Linked DNA regions of Homo sapiens: all the other regions are reported to be linked to region 1. The links are microRNA targets in miRTarBase. Many come from high-throughput screens and were not tested one by one. Region 1 holds a microRNA gene; each other region holds the end of a gene's coding sequence.

Evidence for each region. The annotated mature microRNA hsa-miR-527 reads CUGCAAAGGGAAGCCCUUUC and lies in region 1 at 2,828-2,847, opposite strand. An mRNA with a match to its seed (bases 2 to 7 or 8) in the 3' UTR can be bound and repressed. Matches are read on the target gene's strand: a 7mer-m8 pairs with bases 2 to 8, a 7mer-A1 pairs with bases 2 to 7 and ends in A, and an 8mer does both.
Region 2: the mRNA of RAB23 is a reported target of hsa-miR-527. Seed matches in the 3' UTR shown: 7mer-A1 at 2,664-2,670 and 8mer at 1,429-1,436.
Region 3: the mRNA of KCTD11 is a reported target of hsa-miR-527. Seed matches in the 3' UTR shown: 7mer-m8 at 3,414-3,420.
Region 4: miRTarBase lists UBE2A as a target of hsa-miR-527. Seed matches in the 3' UTR shown: 8mer at 1,303-1,310 and 7mer-m8 at 1,770-1,776.
Region 5: the mRNA of RAVER2 is a reported target of hsa-miR-527. Seed matches in the 3' UTR shown: 7mer-A1 at 1,838-1,844.
Region 6: the mRNA of RLIM is a reported target of hsa-miR-527. Seed matches in the 3' UTR shown: 7mer-m8 at 527-533.
Region 7: miRTarBase lists CIDEC as a target of hsa-miR-527. Seed matches in the 3' UTR shown: 7mer-A1 at 2,862-2,868.

Annotation. Positions count from the first base shown.
Region 1 is chr19:53,738,116-53,742,194 of GRCh38, reverse strand. MIR518A2 (microRNA 518a-2) reads right to left here and starts at 2,862; the gene lies at 2,776-2,862. It overlaps MIR517C (microRNA 517c), which reads right to left and starts at 882; the gene lies at 788-882. It overlaps LOC124904765 (a long non-coding RNA gene), which reads right to left and starts at 3,356. Exons shown (of 6, transcript XR_007067334.1): 1 at 3,107-3,356; 2 at 1-50.
Region 2 is chr6:57,187,116-57,191,194 of GRCh38, forward strand. RAB23 (RAB23, member RAS oncogene family) reads right to left here. Exons shown (of 7, transcript NM_016277.5): 7 at 1-3,485. The coding sequence ends at 3,346. BAG2 (BAG cochaperone 2) reads left to right here. Exons shown (of 3, transcript NM_004282.4): 3 at 1-2,718. Among named protein-coding and RNA genes, the nearest start is that of BAG2, 17 kb to the left of the region's middle.
Region 3 is chr17:7,353,363-7,357,441 of GRCh38, reverse strand. It overlaps KCTD11 (potassium channel tetramerization domain containing 11), which reads right to left. Exons shown (of 1, transcript NM_001363642.1): 1 at 2,498-4,079. The coding sequence ends at 3,801. TMEM95 (transmembrane protein 95) reads right to left here and starts at 2,286. Exons shown (of 7, transcript NM_001320436.2): 1 at 2,069-2,286; 2 at 1,800-1,856; 3 at 1,524-1,604; 4 at 1,393-1,413; 5 at 1,166-1,246; 6 at 963-1,050; 7 at 223-843. The coding sequence starts at 2,237. The coding sequence ends at 810. RefSeq lists enhancers at 1,692-2,218, 2,219-2,745.
Region 4 is chrX:119,582,579-119,586,657 of GRCh38, forward strand. It overlaps UBE2A (ubiquitin conjugating enzyme E2 A), which reads left to right. Exons shown (of 6, transcript NM_003336.4): 5 at 10-98; 6 at 549-1,845. The coding sequence ends at 677. Among named protein-coding and RNA genes, the nearest start is that of UBE2A, 10 kb to the left of the region's middle.
Region 5 is chr1:64,830,686-64,834,764 of GRCh38, reverse strand. RAVER2 (ribonucleoprotein, PTB binding 2) reads right to left here. Exons shown (of 12, transcript NM_001366165.2): 12 at 1,533-3,926. The coding sequence ends at 3,780. It overlaps JAK1 (Janus kinase 1), which reads left to right. Exons shown (of 25, transcript NM_002227.4): 25 at 108-1,536. The coding sequence ends at 203. Among named protein-coding and RNA genes, the nearest start is that of RAVER2, 88 kb to the right of the region's middle.
Region 6 is chrX:74,588,199-74,592,198 of GRCh38, forward strand. It overlaps RLIM (ring finger protein, LIM domain interacting), which reads right to left. Exons shown (of 4, transcript NM_016120.4): 4 at 1-4,000. The coding sequence ends at 3,242. Among named protein-coding and RNA genes, the nearest start is that of RLIM, 24 kb to the right of the region's middle.
Region 7 is chr3:9,863,870-9,867,948 of GRCh38, forward strand. CIDEC (cell death inducing DFFA like effector c) reads right to left here. Exons shown (of 7, transcript NM_001321142.2): 7 at 2,845-3,427. The coding sequence ends at 3,265. Among named protein-coding and RNA genes, the nearest start is that of CIDEC, 14 kb to the right of the region's middle. RefSeq lists a silencer at 216-510.

The DNA of each region.
Region 1 (4,079 bases):
AGTTCCAGGACAGGGGCACACAGTCCCGATGGAAGCATCCAAAATGGAATCTACAATGTTGAAGAATATACATTGTCTCACACACAAACATCCTCCAAGATAGACCACAGTCTAGGCTGACTCTACAGGACCATTTGAGATTAGGGGTGATGGCTCACAGCTGTAATCCCAGTACTTTGGGAGGCCAAGGCTGGTGGATCACCTGAGGTCAGGAGTTTGAGACCAGCCTGCCCAACATGGTGAAACCCCATCTCTACTGAAAACACAAAAATTAGCTGGGTGGGGTGGTAGGCACCTGTAATTCCAGCTATCTGGGAGGCTGAGGCAGGAGAATCACTTGAACCCGGGAGGCCGAGGTTGCGGTGAGCCGAGATCGCGCTATTGCCCTCCAGCCTGGGCAACAAGAGCGAAACTCCGCCTCAAAAAAAAAAAACAAAAAAACAATAATAATTAGCAAGACCTGATGGCAGGCAACTGAATTCCCAATGATTCGGCAGGCTGAGGTGGTAGAAACACTGGAACCTGAGAGGTGGAGTTTCCGGTCAACAGAGATTCTGCTACTGCACTCCCAGTGAAACCAGAGTGGGTCTCAAAAAATCAAAAAATAAAAAGAGGACCACTTGAGCCCAAGAGATCTCGGTTGGAGGTGCCACCCACTCTAGTCTGGGCAACAGAGACACTGTCTTGGAAAAAAAAAACAAAACAAACAGAACCCCAACATCATGCACGTCTGATGATAAGCACGCTCTGCAAATGTGTTACCAAGATCAGCAGCATCTTCAACGTTGATTTTCTCAAACAGTAACACTCTAAAAGGATGCACGATCTTTTCTTAGACAACAGACAGTGCTTCCATCTAGAGGGTCACTGCCTGAGATCTTCTTGCTCCAGTACTCTGGGTTATTTTTTATGTATTTATGTATTTATTTATTTATGTATTTATTTTTTGAGATGGAGTCGCCCAGGCTGCAGTGCAATGGTGTGATTTTAGCTCACTGCAATCTCCTTCTCACGGGTTCAAGAGATTCTCCTGCTGCCGCCTCCCACGTAGCTGAGACTACAGGTGTGTACCACCACGCCTAGCTATATTTTGCATTTTTAGTAGAGAGGAGGTTTTGTCTTGATGGCGGGGCTGCTCTTGAACTCTGACCTGAGGTGATCCACCCGTCTCGACCTCCCAAAGTGCTGGGATTACAAGCGTGTGCCACCGCACCCGGCCTATTTTTTATTTTTTTGAGATTGAGTCTCACTGTTGCCTAGGCTGGAGTTCAGTGGTGCGATCTCAGCTCACTGAGAGCTCAGCTTCCCGGCTTCCTGTGATTCTCCTGCCTCAGCCTCCTGAGTAGCTGGGATTACAGGCGTGTACCACCACCACACTGGGCTAAGTTTTGTATTTTTAGTAGAGATGGGGATTCACCATGTTGGCCAGGCTGGTCTCAAACAACTGACCTCAGGTGATCCTCCTGTCTTGGCCTCCCAAAATGATGGAATCACAGGTGTGAGCCGTGGTACCCAGCCTTGTCCTATACTTAAAATTAGGAACAAAAAAAGATGCCCACACCTAAACAGCAAATCATTTGTTGTTCAAGTACATCTCAAATACATTGTTTATCTGAAATAGAAATTTAAGTGGGGGTGGGGCATGAATCAAAGAACAGTCCTTACTTTCCTCTTCCTGTACATGAGTTAATATTCACATGTAGTCCCAGCTACTAAGGACTGGGGAGGGCCAGAGGCAGGAGGATCTAAGCCCACTTTAGCTTGGGCGGCATAGTGAGACGCCCGTCTCGTTGCATATACGACCTGGTCATGCACCCAAGATTTCAGCTTCATTTCCCCAATGAAAACTCAAACCCCATGCACTCCACCTCCATGCTCTTGCTGAGCAGTACACATCCCATCTGCAAGGGACATTGGGGTCCCCTTCACCTCTACCTGACCCCAAGTGAAGTTCCATAAACCAGTGCCAGAATAATTTCTGTGGGGTAAAAGGTGTTGATGGCCAGGCGCGGTGGCTCACGCCTGTATTCTCAGCACTTTGGGAGGCCGAGGCAGGCAGATCACCTAAGGTCAGGAGCTGAGTTCAGCCTGGCCAACATGGTGAAACCCCATCTCTGCTAAACATTCAAAAATTAGGCCAGGCGTGGGGGCGCATACCTGCAATCCCAGAAAGAGTCAGAGGTGGGCGGATGACTTGAGGTCAGGAGTTTGAGACCAGTCTAACCAACATGGTGAAATCCCATTTCTACTAAAAAAAAAATACAAAAAGTAGCCAGGTGCGGTGGTGTGCTCCTGTAATTCCAGCTAGTCAGGAGGCTGAGGAAGAATTGCTTGAACCCAGGAGGCAGAGATTGCAGTGAGCCGAGATCGTGTCACTGCCCTCCAGCATGGGTGACAGCGAGACTCCGTCTCATAAATAAATAAATGAATTTTTAAAAATACAAATATTATCCAGGTGTGGTGATGGGTGCCTGTAATCTCAGCTACTTGGGAAGCTGAAGCAGGAGAATCGCTTGAACCCAGGAGGCGGGGGTTGCGGCGAGCCGAGATCACATCACTGCACTCCAGCCTGGGTGAGAGAGAGAGACTTTGCTTGCAAAAAAGGACCATTTGAATCCAAGAGGGCTAGGTTGGACATGCCACTGCCACCGCACTCCAGCCTGGGCAACAGAGATCCTGTCTTAGAATGAAAAAGCAAAACCAAAACAGAACCCCGCCATTGTCCAAGCCTGATGATAAGCATGCTCTGCAAATGCATCAACTTCAACGTCGCTTTCTCAAACCGTAATCCAGCAAAGGGAAGCGCTTTCTCTTCTTTTAGACAACAGAAAGGGCTTCCCTTTGCAGACCCACAGCTTGAGATCTTCTTGCTCCGGCACTCTGGGTTTCTTGTTGAAATTTTCCTTAACCAGTTCAAAACGGACACAAATATAAAGATGCATGTATTGGCCCTGTTTGCAAGTTTTCTGGAATCCAGAATATAAACCCCTAAAAGACCATCTCCAGTTCCTTCCTTCAAAGAATCAGCAGGTTAGCCTTGTTCATCAAGGGGCAATCCTTCTGAGTTTTGTCCCCAAAAAGAAAAAGCAATGCCCACTAGACATACCTTATCTCTAACCAAGAGACTTGGGCTGGATTTCTAGAGAACAGCAATGGATTTTCAGCCAACTCTCACTTGAGTTCCAGCACAGGGACACACAGTCCCGACAGGAGCATCCAAAGTGGAATCTATGATGTTCAAGAACATACATTGTCACACACACAAACATTCTCTAGCATAGACTGTAGTCTAGGTTGACTCAAGAGGACCACTTGAGGCTAGGCGTGGAGGCTCATGCCTATAATCCCAGCACTTTGGGAGGCCGATGCAGGGAAATCACTTGAGGTCAGGAGTTTGAGACCAGCCTGGCTAACATGGTGAACCCCCATCTCCACTAAATGCAAAAACTGAGCCGGGTGTGGTGGCGCATGCCTGTAATCCCAGCTACTCGGGCTGCTGAGGCAGGAGAATCGCTTGAACCTGGGAGGTGGAGGTTGCAGTGAGTCAAGATTGTGCCATTGCATTCCAGCCTGGGTAAGAAGAGCAAAACTCTGTCAAAAAAAAAAAAAAAAAAAAAAAAAGGGGGAAATACAAATGCCCACACCTAAACAGCAAATCATTTCTTGTTCAAGTACATCTGAAATATACTATTGATCTGAAATACAAATTTAACTGGGTATCCCTGGCCTGGGAAGCTGCCTTCGGCAATTCAGATAGGAGTCTCCTTTGGAAGCTAATAGGTAGGAACATGGAGATGTCAGCAAAGGGAAGGGACTCTCAGGGATTTCTATGGATTATGCAGATGCCCTGCCAGATCCCAAACTTCCCCAAAAGATCCCAAGTCCAGGCAGAAAGGACCACTGGGGTCCAGAAACCAAATGTCTTGGCTCTGGGCGGGAGTCTTTGTCATCAGATTCCATGACTGAAAGACAGCCAGGAGCAGAGCGAAAATCCCAGGGGTTCTCTCTACCAGAAGACACAGACTCCGTCCAGATCAAACCCAAATTGTCGCCAGTTAGCGATGCCTGGCTCTCCGTTC
Region 2 (4,079 bases), not on the chromosome of region 1:
TTTTCCATTCAAATTTACAAAAGCATTATTTATTAGTAATAAAAATATAGAAGGAATTCAGTTTTCCTTTTATCCCCAATTTTTTGCTTTTAAAAGACCATTTACTAACATCCTACTGTAGATATTTCGAGAGACAGATGAAAATAATAATAATAAAGATTATTATAGCCAAATCATCCAGTTAGCCAGGAGTTTGATGACTGGATATTTCAGAGTCTACTGCGGGTTTTAAATATTTTGTTAGCAAATGAATTCATCTGTATGATGAGAGACTTACATGTTTTATAGCTGAAAACCTAAGGAGTGACAATAGTACATGTGACATTCTTAACAGTTAAAAACTGAGTAAGTCCTGTTCATTAGGTAGGTGCCATGTGGAACAAGCTTTCACCTCATCAATGCATTTTGTTTTCAGAGAAACAGACTAATGATAGATTAATGGGAACATTTTATCAGGTTAGCAGTAACTATTTCAAAGGTTTTGAAAAGTATGCTAATAATTAACAATATCTTATATTAAAAGGGTCCAACACTAAGTTGGGACATTAGGTCCTAAGGCCAACTCCCTATTCTAAGGTCTTCAGAAAAGGTCCAGTTTCCTAAAACTCACAGGTCCAAGGAGTACATGTTATTTATTGAGAGTTCCTTCTGAGCACTGCACTGCCAACTTCTAAAGCAACCACCTAGAACTTCACTCCATAATGAGGAAAAAGTTTTCATCCTCTTTTTGGTAGTTTTAGCTTTATTTTGAAAAAGTAACGTGTGCTATCAACTTTGGGCAGATACAAAGGAAATCATTTAACCTGGTTTTATTTAACTATATTGCCTTATATGGGTCATTCTATATACTATTTAATTCATAGACAGAGACTGGAAAAGGAAAAGGAAACCTGAGGAACTCTGAAATATGGCAGTTATTCCACAGCGATATGTCTACGCAAAAGATTAGCCGTAATGTTAAAAAAGTAGATTAGAGCACAAATGCACAATCACCTGGAATCTTGGAAAAGTTTTTCTTTAGTATACATGGTTTCATAAAATTAAAGTTATTTAAGAGAATGAAGGGTCTTGGAAAAAAAATGTCAATTTTTGAAGGCTTTAAGAATTGATTAAATTGAGAAATTAACATGGCTGACTTTCAGGCCTACTTAATTATTTTAAATGACTAATTATGGTTAGGTTTAAAATACAGCAGTGCAAATTAAAAATTCAAATATGTAACAAAGCTCTCTCTTCAGTTCTTATTTAAAAAAAGATAAAACTAGGTACATAAAATTATATTACAGGAACTGTAACTATCCTCAGAGATTACTTTTTTTAAATATAGAAAGGTAACACGCTTTTAGCCACACAGCTAACATGAAAAAGAACTAACTAGAACACATATAACAAGTGATTTTTCTGCCAATAAAGACAAAAGACTATTTGTTGCAAAGTATTATTTTGTGCAAAAATTAAAGAGGAGAGTAGAGAGTAGAAAATTGAAGAGAGTAGAAAAGATGACTCATTAGCAGTATCCACTGTTTGTTAGGAACTGAATTTTGCCCCCAAAACCTATGTCACTATCAGCAATGGGAGTGGTGACAACTGGTGACATAAAAATAAGCATTTTACATTACTGTGAAATAGATAATGCCAGATCATTTCAATATAATGAAAAGCAAAAATTTACTTTTTAATTTTTTTTATTTTTCCATCTAAAATGGCAAAGAGAACATTTACTTTTGATCACTTAACAAGGACACACCCAGGAAATTTGATTTTCTCAACATTAGGAGGATGAGGGGAGTACAGATGGAAAAACAAAAGATAAAACACAAAAGGAGTACATAAAACATTGTTTAGTACAAATAATGAAAAATGACTTCATGACATTTTCCAATAAAAGTTATTTTTACAGATTTTGCAATGCTGTAAAAACCAGGTATATTGAAAGGGGTTATTTATAGGTTAAAAATAAAGCCATTGATGAGTGATAATCAGTTTTAACAGAGTTCACGCAATTATCTTAGCTGGAAAGCTACTGTCCCAAGTGACAAAATTTATGTCCTGACACATGATTACATATTAAATCATTTTGTAAAAGAAATGATTCTGTATGTGGGACTGACAGCTCTTGAGAAAGTGCTATACAAACAAGGTTATAGAAATGTTGAAGTGATTGATAATCTTAAAATACCATACAAAAATGTGTAAACAAAAGGATGGTTTAGAGTTGCAGGGCATTATAAAATATGTAATTTTAGTTAAGACTAATAATAATATTTTTGTGCACTTTAAAAATGGTTAGTGTAATCTTGTAAGTTCAAAGCTGGGTTCTCAGTGAGCAGCAAAAGGTGTTAGATGCATCACCACACTTCACAGGACCTCCTGAATGACTGCAGATGTGCTGTGTACCTTCTTAAGGGGCTTTGGCTGACCTTATGAGAGCAGGAGCTCACCATGCTTATGGGTGACTATATCAAAAAGATCTGCAATAAGGCTCACCTGGGAGATGCTCTAGCATTCAAATTCCTATACTCCTCTTTTATCTACGCTGTCAGATGAAAACTGCTTACTGCTTTTAAAAGATATAATAAACAATATAAATTCTGATAGTAAAGCACTATAAAAATTAGGTATGATATTTTTGGCACAAAGCACTTTTTAAACCCAAGCTCATTTTGCAAAATATATGTCTAGAGTTTATCATTTGAAAATAAAAACATATACACAATATGTAAATGGTTTTATAAGTGAATTAATTAGAATGTACATTTTCTTAAATACTGCACATACCTTCAGCTTACTCCAGTACCAGACATCTGCATGCACACCCCACATTCTACATTACACAGATATTGCACAAGTTTCAATGCCAAAATACTAATGCAGTCTGGCAAGATTTAGGGTTTACCTTTCAGTATTATTTTGTGAAAGTATTCAGATTCAATACTATTTCGCAGAAAAGCTACATGACCAATTTCAGGAAAAGAATGCTTGCTATCTTTCCTTGATCCACAGTATTAAAATCTGTAACAATATATTTAGGCATTTCATTTATGTTTTCCAGCATTTAAAATTCCGCAAAACCTGTGTTTGAAATTTCTTATAGCATTCCTTTACAAACAGGAGAAGCTTCGTCTAATGTAAAAAAAATTAAAGGAGTCCACAGGGCAATAATTTTTCCACCAGAGGTCTCACTCTACATTCTGAAAAGCACTGCAGAGCAATATTTAAGTCTGTCACTTTCAGAGAGCCATTAGGAGCAAAGTCTGCTGAAAACCTTGTAACATACCATGACAGCTGGATGGGTTTCTTAATGCATTGCACAATGTAATTCAATTGTTTTCCTCCCAAAACATCTTAGGGTATGCTACAGCTGCTAAAAGGATTTCTGTTTTTCTTGGTCCTTTGTTTGTTGGGTCTAAGATTGATGACATCTCCACCATTGAGGGTACCTGAATTCTGACCGGAGTGACTTCCACCAGATGTATTAAAGACACCTGTATAAATTGAGGGAAAAGAGTGATTGCCACTGACACGCCTGAGTTACCTGTTGCATCCAGCTTGTTAGTAAAATCAGTAATATTTTCAAGTATTTACAGTTTCTCTAAAATTGTAGTAAAATCCAACAAAATTTAGCATCTTAACCATTTTTAGGCATACGGTTCAGTGGTATTAAATACATTTGTAATGTTGTGGAACAATCACCCCCGTCCATCTCCATAACTCTTTTCATCTTTAAAACTGAAACTCATACCCATTAAACAGTAACTAACTCCCCATTCCCCCTCCCTGCAGACCTTAGCAACCACCATTCTATCTTCTGTCTCTTATGATTTTAACTACTCTACCTTATATAAATGGAATAATAGTGTCTTTTTGGGACTGACTTATTTCATTTAGCATAATGTCTTCAAGGTTCATCCAACGTAGAACACTGAAGCATTTCCTTCCTTTTTAAGGGTGAATAATATTCCATTGTATGTATATACCACATTTTGCTTATCCTTTCATACATCAATGGACACAGATTTATGATTTTAAAGCTCTTGTTTTAGTTTTACTTTTAGTAGCTAATACGCATGGTACAAAGT
Region 3 (4,079 bases), not on the chromosome of region 1:
TCCTGTGTGTTGTGGGATGTTTAGCAACATCTCTAGCCTCTACCCACCAGAGGCCAGTAGCACGTCCCCCCAGTTAAAACAATCCAAAACGACTCCAGATGTTGCAAAATGTCTACTGGGGTGCAAAATCACCCCCATCTGAGAAGCACTGTGCTACTCTGAGAGTCTCCCATCCTTCCTCTGCCCTCCCCAGTTGCAGACAGAGGCTAGGCAGGGGCAGAGGCCATGAACAGCAAGTTTTACTTAGGCCTGGCAGGATGGAGGCCTCTGAGGGAGGCCAGGATTTCAAACTGTTAACACGATGGAGGGAGGGCATGCCCGCGAACCCACTGATGTGATCTCACTCTAGTGGGGTGAGTTTTCCAGAACATGCATTCCCGGATTCCCCATCAGTCATAGGAGGGCCTGGAATAGCTTCTGGGGCAGATGCCCCCGCTTTCCCGGAACAGGCAGAAGGGGGTGTGGGTGTGGTGGGAGTGGCGTAGGGGATTCTTTCCTTCTGTAGATATTTTCCTGGCATTGTTGACAGCCATGTGATTGGTTGAGGGCTGGAGGGGAGGAACTTTCCAGCTGTGGGTGCCTGGGTTCCCGGGAGGCCATCTGACACTGGGATTGTGGGGGATCTGGGTTTTTGGGGATTTTCTTGTTTTTCATTATCTCACCAACCAGAAGCAGGGATGTCTGGGTTTTAGGGTCTGGAGACTGTCTTTGGAGCTGGGACTAAGGGGCTGACTGGTTCCCCTCCAAGGGATGTGGAAGTTGTGAGTGCATACCCCTTAGAGCTGGAGGCTGGGAGGTTTTCAGCGTCTTCACAAGCCACTTTTTGCTTGGAGGTGGTGGGACCTGAGGGAAGACGAGGGTGGGAAGCCTACGGGAGGGGCCTGGGAGGGACAGAGGGAGGGAGGATGGGTGGTGGAAGGCACTGGGCGGGGTAGGATTCCTGTCTTTATCCCAAAACTCACTCCACCAGGAGGCTCAGAACACCCAGAAGCAGGAAAGCTCCGAAGATGGAGAGGAGCAGAATCTTGGCTTCCCAAAGATCCTGACTTCCTGCAGGGAACCCAGGAGGCAGTGAATGATTCTGGGACCCACACGCACCGACTTGGGAGCCCAAGGGCTCAGGGATCTGGGCAAGGTGGGGCGGGGCCAAGATGGGCGTGAGGACCTGGGAAGCAGCGCTTTCGGGGCCAGCAGGACACCTCCGTCCCCTTGCAGGTGGAGCAGTTGTACAGCGTGGTGCTGCCCCCTGCAGGAGACAGCAGAGGCAACGCTGGGGAGGGGAGGCCGGGCCTCCACCCTGCCTGGTACCCAGCTTCCTCCTGCAGCTGCCAGGCCCTCCTCTGACACCCTGCAGGCCCCAGGTCCTTGCTACCCCTTTCCTTTCCTACTCACGGCAGGCGGGGGGACAGAGAGCTGAAATGAAAGACAAGGAAGGGGTGGGGGTGTGAATGGATGAGCTGCTCACCACACATTCCTTTGGTTAAGACCCTAGGCTCCCCTTGAGGCCCATCCCGCATCGGTACCTTCCCTGGTGTACTCAGGGAGCTTGGTCTTTCGAAGCCAACTCCAATATGAAGGGAGTGAGGAGACAGCCTCTTTGATTTCTGGGGAGGCAGACAGCAGCTCCGTTTCCCTGGGCCTCGACGGGGCCAGTTCCCCCTCTCTTCACGCAGCCCCTCCCTGATCAGCCCTCCTGTCTCTACCCCTCCACCCTTCCCTGCCCACCCCAACCCCTGTCACCCGTCCCTCTCCTTGGTATCCTCCCAAGCCCCTAGGTCACTCTTTCCCCTTGACCTCACCCATGACCCTCAGGACTCTGTGAGTCTTCTCTGTGACTTTGTTCATGGACACCTCATCTGTGGAGATGGGCAAGGACCAGCGATTCCCTCATCAGCCCAGGTTCTGGGGTCTCTCCTGACTTTCCCAGATATGGAGCTCTCTCAGAGGGAAAGGCCAGCATGTCCAGAAAGGGCCACAGATGGAGGGCACAGCTGGAAGGTCACATGCCACCCTCTGGGGGTAGGGGGGTGAGTGCTTGCTGGGCCCATCCCTGGATGTCTGGTCCTACCTAAGGCAAAGGCCGAGAAGTCTGGGGAGGCCCCACATTCCTTCTGCCTGGCCTCCATCTGGCTGCAGAGCCGAGCCAGGCGGCCTGACAAGTCGTGGGCTGGGAGGCGACAGAAGACACAAGCCTGGGCGGCTGCCAGGAAAACCCCGCCTAGTGCCAGCCTCCACATGAGGACCACTGGGGGATGGGGCGGCGCTGCCCCAGCTGAGCCGAGGAATGCTCTGCAGCCCTGGCTCCAGCCCTTGCCTGGAGGTTCTAGAATGTTCCAGAACAATGAACAATGGCACTGCCCATCCTCAGCTGGGGTAAAGCTGGGGCTCAAGGAACTGGGGTCCAGAAGGCATCTCCAGCAGGCGATGGGCAGAGAAAGCAGGGCTTCTGTTGTGAGGGGACAGCACCCCCAACCTGGCCCTCAACAGCCTTCACAAGTTTGTGGTTCCAAAAGCAGTTTTATTTTTCTTCTTGTAAATCATGACCAGTGAGAAATAATGTGTGCCCCACCCCCCACCAGTGAAGAAGCTGTGCGTGAGTATCCCACCCGCTCTGGGACCCAGAAATCCCATCCCTTCCCATCTCCTCCCCCACTGTCCCAAACTCTTCGTCTCCTCTCTCTGCCCTGGGCGGCCTTGGGCCTTCCCCAGCTATCTCCTAGCAACAGGTCCATGGTTGCCTCAGCAACCAAGAGTTCCATACAGGCCTCAGAGGCCCAGCTAAGCCCAGTGACTTCTCTTACCTCTCACCAGGAAGATCCCAGTGACTCAAACCCCAACAGGCCCCTCCTGGCTACGTGGTGATGCATATACATGCGTGCACATAAACACACACACACACACACACACACACACCCTGTGATTAAACTACTAATTGTCAACCACCTCACAGGTATACCACAGACACACCCTGTGCCAGAAGAGTCGCTAGGCAACCCCAAACAGGCCTGGACATGCGGACATCACAGACACTGTAGTCAGCAACACAGATATGAACCAGGATGCCAGGGACCTATACATCAGTCAGCCACACGGGCTGATATGCACGCACACATGAAGAAAGGCCAGGACCCACAGATACTACCCTCTTCCCCCTGGCCAGCCCTGCCATCAGTATGGGATTCTTCCAGATGAGGGATGCTCCAGCCCCATTGCCATGGGGACTGTCCTAGCTCCCATACATCAACCTAGGGTGGGTTGTGGCCTTTCTGCCTCCCTCAGTAGATGGCTTGGAACATAGCAAAGAACTCCTCTTCCGATGTTCCAGAGTGTTCTGGCCTCTCATTGGTCAGGCCAGGCCAGGCCACCCAGCTTCAGGAGTAGAAGCCATGGTCCAAGAGACCGCATTGGGAAAATGCAAAGTCCTCCCTTTTCCCCAGACCTCAATATCCTTCCAGGGTTTTGCTAGGTCTAGTCTGGGTAAAGAGATGTTCCCCCCTTTTCCAAGCCCTTAAACACTGAGCTCCAAATCAAGGAGAGACTGGAGGTGCTCAGCCTTAGGCAAGAACAAGCTGAGAGAACCTTCCCTACCCCTCCCAGGGTCAGCACAGGTTGAGACCTTCTGGACCACTTGTGAGTCCTTGGTGGGCTCAGGTTTGGGAATTCCTGCCCACATCTGAGCTCCAGTCAGGTGCAGGAGAGTCCCGACTCTCATAGCTCCTGAAGCAGAGCTGGAAAGAGGCTTCAGGGGTGCTAGTACCCCATTCTCTCTCCTCCCCACAGTCAAACTGAGAACAGCATCCTCAGTGCCGGACAAAGCGCAGAGACCTGGAGTTGAGCAGGTCTTCGGGGTCGGGGAAGACAGAGTCTAGTCGGAAGCCGTGCTCGAGAGCCACCCGCAGCACCTCCTCCAGGAAGCTTGGGGTGCCCACCACCTCCCGCCGCTCTCCTGGCCCCCCAGTCCACAGCGGCTGCAGCCCCAGTCTCCCATACTCCACCTCGGGGAGTTCCACGGGGCGGGGGGCCCACTCCAGATGAAAATGTGGGCTCCCCTCTGCCCTATCCCCACTGGCCACACCAAA
Region 4 (4,079 bases), not on the chromosome of region 1:
TGTTCTTAGTCTATGCAGATGGTAGTATATGTCTGGACATACTTCAGAACCGTTGGAGTCCAACCTATGATGTGTCTTCCATTCTAACATCCATACAGGTGAATTTTTCCTTAATGTGACGAACTATAACTTTTAATATGTTTATATTAGCAATTGAATTGTTTTTGAAAGTCATAATGTAATAGATCTTTTTATTTTTGGTCAAAGCTTGTTTGTTTTATAGATGAAAAGTAGACCATTAAGACCCAAGTCAGCTGGGTACAGTCGCTCACACCTGTAACCTCAGCACTTTGGCAGGCCAAGGTGGGAGGATTGCTTGAGTTCAGGAGTTTGAGACCAGCCTGGGCAACATAGTGAGACTCTTCTCCCTTAAAAAAAAAAAAAGCCGCATATATTTTCCTAGCTACTAGCAGATTCACATAACTCTGGGTTTGTATGCTAAAGACAAGAAATGTAGCTGTACTTAGGACAATTCAATTGAGTGTCACTACCTTATAAAATAGTTGTTTTGCATTAAGGAACTGACATTTTAAAAATTGTCTCTTTAGTCTCTGTTGGATGAACCCAATCCCAATAGTCCAGCAAACAGCCAGGCTGCTCAGCTGTACCAGGAGAACAAACGGGAATATGAAAAGCGTGTTTCTGCAATAGTAGAACAAAGCTGGCGTGATTGTTGACCCCGGGTACAGTTTAAAGAAGCTGGCCATAAGAAAAATATATATTGATGTGTTTGTCACCTCCCTACTCCTGTCATTACATTTACTTTATTAAAAGCAAAATAACTGTTGTGCTGTTTCCATCTTCCTTGCCAAGTTTTCCTACCCCTTCTACCCTCTCCTTAAACATCAGAAAACACCCTCTATGAAATCAAATGTACTGTACCTGGGTTACTTGCAAAAATTACTAATGCTTCAGTTTTTCTGTTGTATTTCATTTCCAGTTTTCAGGCAGTTATTTTTATTATTGTACTTTAAGCTTTTAAGATGAATTGTTATACAAGAGGTGCTTATGCTTAGCTTGATGACCAGGATGTTATTTTTAACAAAATGATTGCTGAAGTGTTTCATCCTGGCTGGTCCTTCACTTGTGTTGGATTTAGAAGTGAATGTGTTTGGAATATGGCCTACAGAGAATAGAAACAAATCCATGTAAACAATTTTGAAGGAGGCATGGGAGCTAAAAATCCTGTGATACTAAGATCTCAGTCATATGAATTACAACGTAGTATTTACTGGCAAGAAGGAGAAAGTTGAAGGACTCAGCTAAAGGAGTACAGCAATTGTAGTAACTGACACATCCTCTCTTTGCAAGCTGCTGACTGGGCACACTCATGCCAAGTTTCAGAATTATTGGTCTTCTGGGTTTTTGCTTTTTAAAAGAGGTGTGGGAGCAGAGGAATGGAAACAATCGTGAGTTTTTGAGCTAGGGAAAGTTGGAGCTCCTTTAATCTTTTTAAAGGATCAGTGCTGCCCTAAGTGAATAAACTCAATTGTCCATCTTTATTTTAGAGTTTTAATGAATTCAAGGAAGGGAGCATAGCATATCTGTGGCAAACTATTTTCCACTCAAATCCTGAGTTATTGCTGCATGCTTTAATTTCTTCCCTTTCAGCATCTGAGAACCTTAAAGCCAATGTCTGCGATCTTTTTTTGGATATTTATACTTTTAGATATATAGTACCTTTAAGTAGCAGTATGGGACAAGGCTTGTAAATGTTTTGTCTAATGTTCTATTGTCACCTTTTATGCATTTATCACTTCCAAATCTAACTTTGCACAAGTAACCCATGTAAAAAAAAATGTACATTTTTCAAAAGTTGTAAATAAAAATAACCTTAAAATTTCATAGTCAAGGTATCTTTTTTTTTTTTTTTTTAGCTCAGTATAAACTTTTTGTATTGGTTTCTTATTGGGATCTCATATGTACTCATTTCCCCCCTCAAACATTAAGGTAAAAGCAAAAATACTCATTCTGGGAGGGGAAAAGACAAGACAGATACTTCTGGAGAGAACTTTTTTTTTCTTTCCAGTCATAAGTGGTAATGCTTTTTAAATATATTAACAGAATATGTTGCCGGGCACAGTGGTTCACGCCTGTAATCCCAGCACTTTGGGAGGCCAGGGCGGGCAGATCACGAGGTCAGAAGATCAACCATCCTGGCTAACACAGTGAAACCCTGTCTCTGCTAAAAATACAAAAAGAAATTAGCCAGGCGTGGTGGCATGCCCCTGTAGTCCCAGCTGCTTGGGAGGCTGAGGTAGGAGAATCGCTTGAACCAAGGAGGCGGAGGTTGCAGTGAGCCAAGATCGCGCTACTGCACTCCAGCCTGGTGACAGAGTGAGACTTCTTCCTCTCAAAAAAAAAAAAAAAATTTAACAGAATGTAAAATTATTAAATAAAGTTACCTCAGTATACATTATAATCAATCAAGGGAATGAGGTTATGGGGGGCGTGCGGGGGGCAGGGATAAACCAACCTAGGTATTTATCAGCACCCTCAGAGACCAAGATCTAACTTGTTGATCCTGACATACCACCTCTTTAAAAGCCCTAGCTCAAAAACAAACAGTACCAAACTTTTTTTTTTTTTTTTTTTTTTTTTTTGAGACGGAGTCTAGCTCTGTCGCCCAGACTGGAGTGCAGTGGTGCAATTTTGGCTCACTGCCACCTCTGCCTCCTGGGTTCAAACGATTCTCCTGCCTCAGCCTCCTGGGTAGCTGGGATTACAGGCGCTCGCCACCATGCCCAGCTAATTTTTGTATTTTTAGTAGAGATGGGGTTTCACTGTGTTGGCTAGGCTGGTCTTAAACTCCTCCTGACCTCATGATCCACCTGCCTCGGCCTCCCAAAGTGCTGGGATTACAAGCCTGAGCCACCGTGCCCGGCCTAGATGGTATTTTAAATCCTATGCAAAGTTTGGGAGTACAGATATCCTCAATCACTTTGATTAAACAAAACTACTTTCTTCTGAGGAGCAACCCATCTCATTTGAAAGAGGCAAGGACAATGACTTTGTAAAAACTACCACCTCTTGGTACTTGTTTGGTTGGGTGGATGGGGCTAAATGAAGTTAAGTCCTTATGACACATGTATCTCACTCATCTTTTAAGACATGGTACTTGAAGCCTCAGTATGGAGTACAATCTGTACTAATTACCACATTACTTGGATTGTTTCACCTAGGAGCAATGTCCTTCAATTTGCTTAATAGTTTCCCTCAAGTCCATTTCTGCTTCAAAGTAGAACCACATTAAATTTTTCTATTTGGTGGATTAGTTTTACATTAACTTTTTCATCCTGCTATGTGGCTGAGTGCTTTAAATTGACACTGTTAATCATACCTGAAACAATGTAAGGCGAGACTCAGAATGGTCAGGTTTAATAACTTTTTTCTTCTGTACACCTGAGAAACACTATACCCAATCTCTTTCACAGGATAATCCATTTAAAACCTTACAACAGAGCCAACAAGCTGACCTCCCAAAACAACATATGCATGGTCAAAGGCACCACAAACCATTCATTTGAACATTTCATGCTAATTGCCTCTTTCTCCCTTTAAAATTTTTAACACCACAGGCTACATGTATTGATAACAAAGTTAATGAAAACAAATTTGCAATGTCCCTTTTTCAAATGGCAGTCAGGTTTGAACTTTTCAATTCTGCACGTGCTGATGTGGGGAAGGAGGTATGATGAAGAACCAAAGCTGCAATTAGAATCCTTTATTTAGGACCCATCTCCAGCTTCAGGGGTTACTCATAGCAAAGAGAATGCATTGTATACTACTAAAAAAGAATCCCAACAAAGTGCATGATATTGCCATTCATTTTGCAATCAAAGGGGAGGAAAAAAATCCAAAAAGTAGATCTGTGATACTAAAAGCTAGATATAAAATGGAAAGAACAGTTAGTTCCTCAGTATAAAAAACACTTAATCCAAATAAAATTTGAAATTGCTCATGTACCTGTACAGATTGTATAGGAAGGTTACTGGGTTAAGAATGACTACATTTCAAAGAAAGGGAAAATACAGTAACCAACTGAAAGGGGACAAAATGGAACAAAATGGAACAACAGC
Region 5 (4,079 bases), not on the chromosome of region 1:
AAAGTCATTGCATTTCCAAAATTATTTTCTTACTCTTGATATTTCTGTTATTTTTTAAAGTTCCCAGATCTAACATTTTTACTGTTGTTACTTCTTTCTTTTTACAGGTTTATCAACTTATGAGGAAATGCTGGGAATTCCAACCATCCAATCGGACAAGCTTTCAGAACCTTATTGAAGGATTTGAAGCACTTTTAAAATAAGAAGCATGAATAACATTTAAATTCCACAGATTATCAAGTCCTTCTCCTGCAACAAATGCCCAAGTCATTTTTTAAAAATTTCTAATGAAAGAAGTTTGTGTTCTGTCCAAAAAGTCACTGAACTCATACTTCAGTACATATACATGTATAAGGCACACTGTAGTGCTTAATATGTGTAAGGACTTCCTCTTTAAATTTGGTACCAGTAACTTAGTGACACATAATGACAACCAAAATATTTGAAAGCACTTAAGCACTCCTCCTTGTGGAAAGAATATACCACCATTTCATCTGGCTAGTTCACCATCACAACTGCATTACCAAAAGGGGATTTTTGAAAACGAGGAGTTGACCAAAATAATATCTGAAGATGATTGCTTTTCCCTGCTGCCAGCTGATCTGAAATGTTTTGCTGGCACATTAATCATAGATAAAGAAAGATTGATGGACTTAGCCCTCAAATTTCAGTATCTATACAGTACTAGACCATGCATTCTTAAAATATTAGATACCAGGTAGTATATATTGTTTCTGTACAAAAATGACTGTATTCTCTCACCAGTAGGACTTAAACTTTGTTTCTCCAGTGGCTTAGCTCCTGTTCCTTTGGGTGATCACTAGCACCCATTTTTGAGAAAGCTGGTTCTACATGGGGGGATAGCTGTGGAATAGATAATTTGCTGCATGTTAATTCTCAAGAACTAAGCCTGTGCCAGTGCTTTCCTAAGCAGTATACCTTTAATCAGAACTCATTCCCAGAACCTGGATGCTATTACACATGCTTTTAAGAAACGTCAATGTATATCCTTTTATAACTCTACCACTTTGGGGCAAGCTATTCCAGCACTGGTTTTGAATGCTGTATGCAACCAGTCTGAATACCACATACGCTGCACTGTTCTTAGAGGGTTTCCATACTTACCACCGATCTACAAGGGTTGATCCCTGTTTTTACCATCAATCATCACCCTGTGGTGCAACACTTGAAAGACCCGGCTAGAGGCACTATGGACTTCAGGATCCACTAGACAGTTTTCAGTTTGCTTGGAGGTAGCTGGGTAATCAAAAATGTTTAGTCATTGATTCAATGTGAACGATTACGGTCTTTATGACCAAGAGTCTGAAAATCTTTTTGTTATGCTGTTTAGTATTCGTTTGATATTGTTACTTTTCACCTGTTGAGCCCAAATTCAGGATTGGTTCAGTGGCAGCAATGAAGTTGCCATTTAAATTTGTTCATAGCCTACATCACCAAGGTCTCTGTGTCAAACCTGTGGCCACTCTATATGCACTTTGTTTACTCTTTATACAAATAAATATACTAAAGACTTTACATGCATATGCCTTTTAATATTAAGATTTCATTTTCAAAGCATTTCAAACAATTTGCTTACATAGAAAAATAACAGTATAGTTTTGGGGGGAGGAAGGGGTGGGTTACGGTCCTTACTACTAACAAACAAACAAACACCACTTGATTTGCACTTCTTCACTGTTGTGCCCAGTGATTGATAACGGGGCACAGGCCAGTATGGATGGCATGTCCACTGTGCTGTAGTCCAGACACCTTTGTTTGTTTGTTTTAGTTCCTTCAACCTCTTCCTGCTTTGACTGACTGACTTTTTGCAGCTCTGTTGCAAAATTCACCATCTTTCCTTTCTTCTGTTTGTTTGTTTGTTTGTACTATAGTGGAGGTGTGACTAAGCATTGAAGAGGCTGAATGCAACAGGAAAATGGGAAAGAGAAGTGCAGGGCCTGAAAAACCCATTAGTCATCTGCTATATCACTGAATGATGCCTAATTCTTATCAGTTACTTATAGGTAGTATACTTAGAAATTACCTTAAACTTTCTAGCTGTCAGTCATTTTCCAACAGAAGCTAGTATATGCAATAAATTAGACCAAGTGAAATTCTTTACAAAGCATACAACATATGTACCAATTCTAGACTTCATAATTAAAACAGGATATCCACATCATAGTTAAAAATAACAAGTCCCCAAAGTGACGAGATATTTAATGATCTGATTTCAAAAAGCCCCGGATTGAGATCCCAAATTCCCTATCAATTAATTACAGTCTTATAACATAAACAAACTTAGAAATTTCTAGATGGCAAAAGGTTTCTCATGCATTTAATACCAAGGTCTTCAAGAAATGGTGATGTCAAAAGTCATCATAGTCCATAAAGATAAAACTTCTTTCACAAGTAAATTGGGTTAAATAACTGATTTTTCACCCTAACACACTATCAAAAAGAGTGAGAGAGAAAGCAGAGAGTGAGGTATAGCTTATTAGCTCAAAATGGTTATAAATACTGTGACTCCTTAAGACTCCATCAGAAAGTGCAGTATTGACTGCTTTACTATACTATATTGTGGAAATAATAGGGCATTTAGTGATCAAAATAGGCCCCATTCTAGTCATTAGATCATTACTAGTCTACGCTATGAAATGAGCACAGAAACCCATGTTCCTTTCCACTTACAAGTCTGTCTAAAGGCTAAAGGTCTGTCTTTAGGTGAATTGAAAGGAATAGTTGCTATTAGAATTAGTGCTATTAGATCAGGGATCAGCAAACTATATATAAATGGCCAGATACTTGAAATTTTAGGCCATATGGTCTTTGTAGGCCATACAGTCTCTGTTGAAGCTAATCAGTTCTGCCCTTGTAGCGTAAGAGTGCCACAGACAACACGTAAATGAATGAGCATGGCAACGTCCCAATAAAAGTTTATTTATGGACACTGAAATCTGAATTTCATATAAATTTCATGTCATAAGTTTTCTTTTTTCCTCCAACCATTTAAAAATGTAAACATTAGTCTTAGCTTGCAGGCAGCACAAAAGCGGGTGGTAGACCAAATGTGGACCCAGGGTGTAGTTTGCCAAACCCTTTTATTAGATCACCAAAGTTACTTTTCTTAAAATACCTTCTATTTTTCACAGAAGGTATAAATGGTAAACAACATCTTAAAGCATCGGTAGTAGTGGATACCTTGGATATCACTGTCACTCTCTTACCGGGTTTAATTTTGCATGGCTGGTGTGGGCGTAATTGAGTGTGCATGTAGAGCATCTTTATAATATTACCATCAGCACATTTGGTACTTGCACCCTTGTAGTTCTAGGAAAAGTCCTAAAAATCTATAAATGCAATTACTTCTAGGGAAAGTAAATTGAAATGCACATTGGCTTATAAGAAACTCATTCTTCTAAGGCTCAGGAAACAACACTGTTTCCCATTTATTGCTTCAAACTTCTTTTATATATGGTGTCAGAATTATTCCCAGTCCTAAATCAAGGAATATTGGAACATTGTTAGTTTCTCCAATGGATTGTAAGTTAGCACACTGATTAAGATGCATCTGACTCTAGTGGAAAATGTCCTCAATTGATGTCTCTTCTTATTGCTATTTTTTATTTGGCATTTCTGCCTGCTGCACAACACAGTTCCTTCTGGGAAACTATAAACCCGTATTTAAAGGATATGGCTAGTTTGAATGAAGTTAAGGCAGCGATGAACAGCAGAGATACTGCAGAGAACCTTAGGGGGTTATTAGGAGAGAGCTTAACTCAGTATACTCGCTTCTTTTTTAAGTAAGTTTCCATGTAATATGCTCCTGTGCCCTGAGAATGCTGGTCAACACATTCCACTGAACCACCTTCTGGGGCAGAGATGAGATATGATGAGCCTCGCTTTTCATTTCTTAAAGATGACACCTATGAGAAAATAAAATTGCAGCTAGTTTTAAAATCTAAAGTTGGCTTATTCATTAAAGATATTTATAAGAAAAGCATTCCACTTTGACTTGGTGAATATAGAATAACAGGATAAATACCCAAACTATCAAAAAATACACAAACCCCTTTGTT
Region 6 (4,000 bases), not on the chromosome of region 1:
GTGGCTCACGCCTGTAATCCCAGCATTTTCGGAGGCCGAGGCAGGCACATCACTTGAGGTCAGGAGTTCAAGACCAGCCTGGCCAACACGGTGAAGTCCCCATCTCTACTAAAAATATAAAAACTAGCCAGGTGTGGTGGCATGCGCCTGTAATCCCAGCTACTCGAGAGGCTGAGACAGGAGAATTGCTTGAACCCAGGAGGCAGAGGTTGCAGTGAGCCGAGATCGCTCCATTGCACTTCATCCTGGGCAACCAAGTAAGACTCTGTCTCAAAAAAACAAAACAAAACAAAACAAAACAAAAAAACCTCAACTTTGTCAGCTGCTCAGAGTTAAAACAATTCAAATGTTTCAGACTAGAAGTGAGTTTTTAAAAACATCTGAAATATTCAAGAAAATTTGGGTTTTGGTACTTTTCCTTATGCTCTGAACAATGTGAACTCCCAACATTGTTTATCCTTGTTCCTCTTACTGCATGAAGTTCAAACTAGGTCTTAAAGACAACTTTTCTGTACTTAAGAAAAAGTGCAAAGATAGAAAATGAAATGTAAGGTGTTTTGCAAGAAATGCTCCCTCGAGAATGGTGTTTGGATGTGGGTGGGGGGAAAACGATTTTTGTTCTCCATTGTAATCTGACACCTACGAATGACCTTGTCTTCAATGTCCACAACACTAGTAAGCATGTAATAATCACGGACATCGCAAGATTAAAAATTAAGTAGCAAATTCCACTAAAACACTTGTATTCATTCTATACAATCGAATGGAAATCCGTGAGTGCTACTGAAAAAGGTGTTCACATGCACATGTCCAATATGTGCATTCCACTGAAGGCTAAAAGCTTAAAATTCTATTTCCAGTGTTTATGAATAGCTTCAATATCTACATTCATAGCCAGCATTCTGCTTGAGTTACCTCTTACTTTAATACTTCACAAATGAGTAAGTACGTCTTGGGAGATTAGGAAGGTACCTGTTGTCAATAACTTTCTCTTATGCTTAGAATGTGCTGCAATTGTTTTTAAACTATTTAAAATGAACACCCCTATAATAATGAAACACTTTATGCCAAGAAGAAAATTGATTTGTTTTTAGCCAATCAAGACTACCCTGCAGATCTGAAAACTGTAGATTACATCCTTAGGAAAGGAGAAAAGGAGGCTCACAAATATAAAGGAATCCTGACTTTTACACGGACAAATTTTTAAAAAGATAAAATGTATTACATAAGCGCCATAAACAGTGAAATCTGCTTATATTAAAAAAAATAAGTGAAGCTTTGTTTGGACATTATTTCCTTGCAAGAGCAGTACATATCCTTAGTAAACAACTACCATATTTACAAGTTAATTTCCTTGATACTTAGATAGGATTGAAAGCCAGAAGAAATCATGGAAGAGTGAGCTTTGAAATAATCTTTACAGCTAAGTTGGTAACAGTGAAGGTACCCAGACAATTCCTAAAGCAGACTTGTTTATTTTGTAGAGTATTTGACTACGTCTGGGTAGCTAGCTTGCTTTGATAAAGGCCAAGGACAAGTTCAATCCCTATTTTGGCCTGTTAAAGCTTTTCCCAGAAGAACAAATATCTGCTCCATAGTCATTCTAATCCTAACCCCAGCTAGTCTCAAAAAAGAAATTAGGCAAGAAGACTGGGGTTATCATGAAGTTACTCTTACTACTAAGAAACCAACATAAAGTGCATGTCCATAGATAGCGAGTCAGCAGTCTCATTTTCATATATGGGCAGCACAATTAAAATTTGAATTTCAAATAACCCAACATGACTTTCAACAAAGGATAAAAATCCCTTAATCTTCAACTGGTCTTTAAATTTGAGATGTTAGGACTGTGTTAGAGATAGTAATGAAATATGATCAAGTGTGCACTGGTACCTTAAATGACAAATCTCAAAAACAACACAAATTCGAGACTTTCCTATTAACACACACATGTGTACCAACTGCAATTCATATGCTAAAAGTGGTTTTATAGTCTCTTTCCTCCATTTTTTCATTTTTGAGGAGCAGACTTGTAAATTTAACTTGTGCTAGGTAGTAGTGGTTTGTTTTTCTTAAACCAAAACTCTGCCAAACTTGCTGATCTTCTGCTTCATCTACTCAGGTAGAATACCAGGTCAAGCTGCTGCTGTGGCTGCTCTCACCATATGAAACCAGTTTGTGTCTGCATTATTACTGTCTTCAGGAAAACTTTAAATTCTTCAGTTTTCTTTACTCCTCCCATATTTCACTTCCTGCCTAAATCCAAGTTAAATTATACAATTTCCACTGGTCTTCAACACGGTTTAATTCTGCACTGTCCTTTCCTTTGCATGTCACAGTAGCTGTTCACACATTAAATATTATAGATATGTTCTGCTCTTGACATCTACACACTTACAAAAGCAGCTTTGTACTTTGTTTGGTGTGTTTGTTACTATGTTGGCTCACAAAAAGCAGTTTTCTCAGTTCTAAGCATGGTACTTTACAATTTTTAATGCATTCATACAACAGTGCATTGGAAAAGTACTGAGCCTCTACAAAATAGCTTTACATTTTTAAACAAATGAATGTGATTTTTTTTCACTTACACAAGCATAGGCTTTTTAATATTTCCACAAGATAAATATCTCAATTAAACTATAAGCTCACTCTACAGTGTGCCACAGTGATGGGCTTAGGAGACAGTTATACACTTAGAAGATCCTAACCTTAGTGTTATTTACACTGACATGTCCAGTATCACCAAGTCTGAAAGGTGAACAAACAATACTCAGAATGTGGCTGAATTTGTGTTAACTAATAACTGGGAATGATATAGCTTTAATCACTTATGAAACACATACTGTAACTTAGTCTAAACTGGTAATTTCCTTTGCTCCTCTCTTATGGTGTGGGAAAATTTAAAGATCAACATGAAAAAGGAGCCATTGCTAAGGCAGATCTTTTAAGATAACAAAGGAAAAATTGACAAGTGTATATGATAAATTATCAGTAACAGTGATGCTACCAATTTAACTGGTACGGAAATCAGATTTTTAGGTCCTATAACGTGGCTTTTAAAATATTTCCTTTTATTCTGGAACAAAAACTGGAGAAAGGACAATGATTCCTTCAGAAAGCAATGACTCAATTCAGGTTGTTACTTTACATTTAAGTACCACTCAAAAAGTGGACATAAAAGCAAGTGATTCCTGTTTGCCCATCACTATATCAGCTACATAGCTGAGAGTTCAGATCTTAATTACACAACACTTTCTCTGTTACCAGAAGCTAAGACTGCTCTGCGACAAATAGGACAGGTAGAATTCTCAGATAACCAGCGATCGATGCAGTGGACATGGTACTCATGGGAACAAGGTAGTTTACGAAGTTTGTTGCCTTCTGTATATTCTGTAATGCAAACACTACAGGTTTTTAATGCATCATTTTCACCAAAACTTCTCATTGCCAAGTTGTCAATCTGTTCTTTGGTGAGTCCTCTAGGTTGGTCATCATCATCCTCATTTAAGAGGAAAAACTGAGCCAGGCTAAGGAAGGGCAAAGAGCCACTTTCATCAAATGTGACTGGGGCCCTATGTCGACCCTCTCGCCTGGCACCTGATGAGCCTGATGATGAGCTTCCTTCATTACTGCCTTCAAATAAATCTGAGCTAGTTTCTGAACTTTCACCACCGGAACTGGAACTAGGACTGGAACTGGAACTTGAACTGGAACTGGAACTCGAACTGGAACTGGAACTCGAACTGGAACCAGAACTACTACCACCACCAGAACCTCCTCTTCCACTCCGTGACTCTGCCCTTTCCATATTTCGATTTGAGACTGAGCCAGTAGGCTCTGAGTCGCTATCACTGTACATAAAATAGCTTAACTCACCAAAACCTGTCATTATCTGCCTTAACATGGTCTGAATTGCAACAGATGTAGTCTCACTTAAACCAGTATTTAAGATTCTACGAATGGGAATTCTGATGGTACTGACATAGGTTCTCACACCTGC
Region 7 (4,079 bases), not on the chromosome of region 1:
GCCTGTAATCCCAGCACTTTGGGAGGCCGAGGCCGGCGGATCACGAGGTCAGGAGATCGACACCATCCTGGCTAACACGGTGAAACCCCGTCTCTACTAAAAATACAAAAAATTAGCTGGGCGTGGTGGCGGGTGCCTGTAGTCCCAGCTACTTGGGAGGCTGAGGCAGGAGAATGGCATGAACCCGGGAGGCGGAGCTTGCAGTGAGCCGAGATCACACTACTGCACTCCAGCCCAGGCGACAGAGTGAGACTGCGTCTCAAAAAAAAAAAAATTATATGCACAAATATGGGCATCGCTGGTAAGAAGAGTGGCAAAAACACAAGTGGTTCTCTTGTTTTGGGCTCAGACATGTGACTGTGGCATCACAGGCCCCCGGGATTTAGAATTCTTCTGAAAGGCATCCTGTGCACTCCCGAGCACCAGCTTGAACAGATGAAAAGGCTGAGCTGGAGGGGCTGGGACACAGTCCACCTTGACGACAGCTGCTCCTGGCTGTGCGGGGGGCCCCAGGAAAGGCCGTTCCCCCACTAGGACCGCCAGGCCCTACAGAGGCTCAAACTCCTTTGCTGTTTGGAATCTTCCCTCCCCAGCCCCCAAGCCTCATCAGAGGCTGCCTTTTCTGTTCACTGACCACAGCTGCTTTGACTCCATTAGCCTCGAGCTCCTGGAAGAAAAGAAAGAACCTTGTTTTCCCTGGGCTCAATGCCAAGAGACCATGGGCAGTTGCTCAAGATTCACTTGTGAAACTCCGGATCTCAGGAGGAGGGAAGCTTGGGACAAATACCGAGCCTCCCACCCCCACTCCAACTCTGTTACTGAGCACTTTACGGAAGGAGCAGGTAGGCCCCGCCACAGCTTCATCAAGGGTGGACTGGGATAGCTTCTGTGCTAATACAAACATCAGGCCTCCCTGCCAGACAGCCCACCCCATGGAGCCAGCCTGGCACCGGGCCAGCCTCCAGCCATAACTGCAAAAGAGCAGGAGAGCCCGGAATAGCAGGCCCTCTTCAGCGAGCTTCAGCCGCTTTGCCCATAGGCTGCAGGGTTTGGGTCCGCTGCCATAAATAGCTCCCAGACCATCTTTGGTAATATAGGCCTTTGCCTTAGTATTTACTACATCCAAATAGGCTTTATAGTAAGAGTAGTGAAACAATAGGTTTTGTTTTGTTTTTCGTTTTTTGTTTGTTTGTTTCTTTTTTGAGACGGAGTCTCACTCTGTCGTCCAGGCTAGAGTGCAATGGCACAATCTCGGCTCACTGCAACCTGCACCTCCCAGGTTCAAGCAATTCTCCTGCCTCAGCCCCCCGAGTAGCTGAGATTACAGGTGCCCACCACCATGCCCGGCCAATATTTTGTACTTTTAGTAGAGACGGGATTTGGCCATGTTGGCCAGGCTGCTCTCAAATGCCTGACCTTGTGATCCACCCGCCTTGGCCTCCCAAAGCGCTGGGATTACAGGCGTGAGCCACTGCGGCTGGCTGTGATAGAGTTTTTGAATCCTCTTTTTTTTTTTTCCCAGAGACAGGCTCTCACTCTGTTGCCCAGGCTGGAGTGCAGTGGCACAATCATAGCTCACTGCAGCCGCGACCTACTGGGCTCCAGTGAACCTCCTGCCTCAGGCTCCTGAGTAGCTGGGACTACAGCCACCATGCTCTGCTAATTTTTTTTTATTATCTAGTGTAGAGACAGGGTCTGGCTATGTTGCCCAGGCTGCTCTTGAACTCCTGGCCTCAAGCGATACTCCTGCCTCAGCCTCCCAAAGTGCCGGGATATCCGGCATGAGCCACTGCACCTGGCCAAGTTTTTAAATCTTTCAGTCACAGACTAAATAAAACAGTCACCTACAAGTTCTACAAGTTCAGCCTTTTTTTTTTTTTTTTGAGATGGAGTCTCGCTCTGTCACCCAGGCTGTAGTGCAGTGGCACGATCTTGGCTTACCACAACCTCTGCCTCCCAGGTTCAAGCGATTCTACTGCCTCAGCCTCCCAAACAGCTGGGAGTACAGGCGCCTGCCATGCTGGCCAGCTAATTTTTTTGTTTTTAATAGAAACCGGGTTTCACCATGTTGGTCAGGCTGGTCTTGAACTCCTGACCTCAGGTAATCTGCCTGGCTCGGCCTCCCAAAGTGCTGGGATTACGGCGTGAGCCACCATGCCCAGCCTAAGTTCAGCCTTTCATGCTTGTCTTGAGTTGTCCAATACTGGAAAATGCCAGCTCACACTGATGAGAAGCTCCTACTCTTTGGGGCTACCTATGAGCCCACTTTGAAATCCCGAGGTTGAAAGTCCTGAACATGAAAGATAAGCTGTCTGGCAAGTTAGGATGGGCATTGATGGAGAAATGCCTTACAGCTTGAGTAGTACTTTTTCACCTAACCACTTAAACGGTTATTATAAAATGGGACACTGAGAAATTAGAAGAGTGACTTAATCCCACCTGCTCAATTGAAGCTCCTCTGATAGGTGAATTTAATTAGGAAATTGTTACTTATGGTATCAATTACATGGTCAGCTCAAGCCTCAAATTCAGCTGACTTTAGTTTCAAAATCAACTGCAATTTTGTTTTTTAAGGAGCCTGGGGTCTTGCTATTGTGCTCCAGCCTGGCCTTGAACTCCTGGTCTCAAGGGATGCTTCCACCCCAGCTTGCTGAGTATCTGGGACTGCAGGCACGTGTCACTGTGCCCAGCTGTTTTTTTTTTTCTTCTTTGGTAGAAAAAGTGCCATTAGCTGTAATCCTACATTAAAGAGAATACTTTGACAATAGATTCGTCTCTTCCTTTAGCCCCCTCCAACCTTCCAGATAAAACCCCACCCCAAAGAACACAGGCAAAGAAGATACATCAGCCTCAATAATTTATTGCAAACTCCCTAATATCACATGCTAGTGCGCTTGCGAATTCACTCAGGAATGTTCCGGGATGGGGGCCAGAAGGTAGAGAGCACCATGAAAGTACAGCCTGCGAGGCCAGATTGCTAAGGGGCAGACTTCATGCCAATGGAGGGACAGACTTCAGGACCAGTCTGGATGGGCTAAGCTGCCTTGGGCAGGAAGGAGCTGGATCAGGCCAGGAGCTTGAGGTTCTCCTTTGGCCAACCCACCCCAGGTTTCCAGCTCCTCCTCCTCACTCAGGGTCCTGCGCGGTGAGGGAGGTGTGGGGAGGTTCGCGGCTCTACAGCTGCCAGGCTTGTGGGCACTACCAGTTAAGCGTGAGGCCCCCAGTCAGTCCTTCACTGGGGAAAGCTTCCAAGGACTTGGGCTTTCACTGCAGTATCTTCAGACAGGTCGGGATAAGGGATGAGGCCTTGCCCTTGGGGGGCTGCCCTTCCTCCGTAGCATCGAGGAGCTGCTGCAGGTAACAGGAGGTGCCAAGCAGTACGTGGCCTGTGGCCTGCATGCTGAAGAGGGCCCAGCGGAAAGCTTCCCTGGGTGGAATGAGAGGGCACGCAAGTCAAAACCACGAAGTAGGTCGGGCATGGCGTTCACGCCTGTAATCCTAGCACTTTGGGAGGCCATGGAGGGCGGGTAACCTGAGGTCAGGAGTTTGAGACTAGCATGGCCAACATGGCGAATCTCTGTCTCTACTAAAAATACAAAAACTAGGCAGGCATAGTGGTGGGTGACTGTAATCCCAGTTACTCCAGAGCCTGAGGCAGGAGAATCGCTTGAACCCAGGAGGCGGAGGTCACAGTGAGCCGAGGTGGCACCACTGCACTCCAGCCTGGGTGACAGAGCAAGATTCAGTCTCAAAAAACAATCAAACAAAAAACACAAGGCTGGGCTTGGTGGCTCATGCCTGTAATCCTATAACTTTAGGTGGCCGAGGTGGGTGGATCATTTGAGGTCAGGAGTTTGAGACCAGCCTGGCCAACATGGCGAAACCCCGTCTCTACTAAAAAATACAAAAAATTAGCCGGGCGTGGTGGCAGACACCTGTAATCTCAGCTACTCGGGAAGCTGAGGCACGAAAATCACTTGAACCTGGGAGACAGAGGTTGTAGTGAGCTGAGATTGTGCCACTGCACTCCAGCCTGGGTGACAGAGTGAGTCTCTGTCTCAAAAATAAATAAATACATA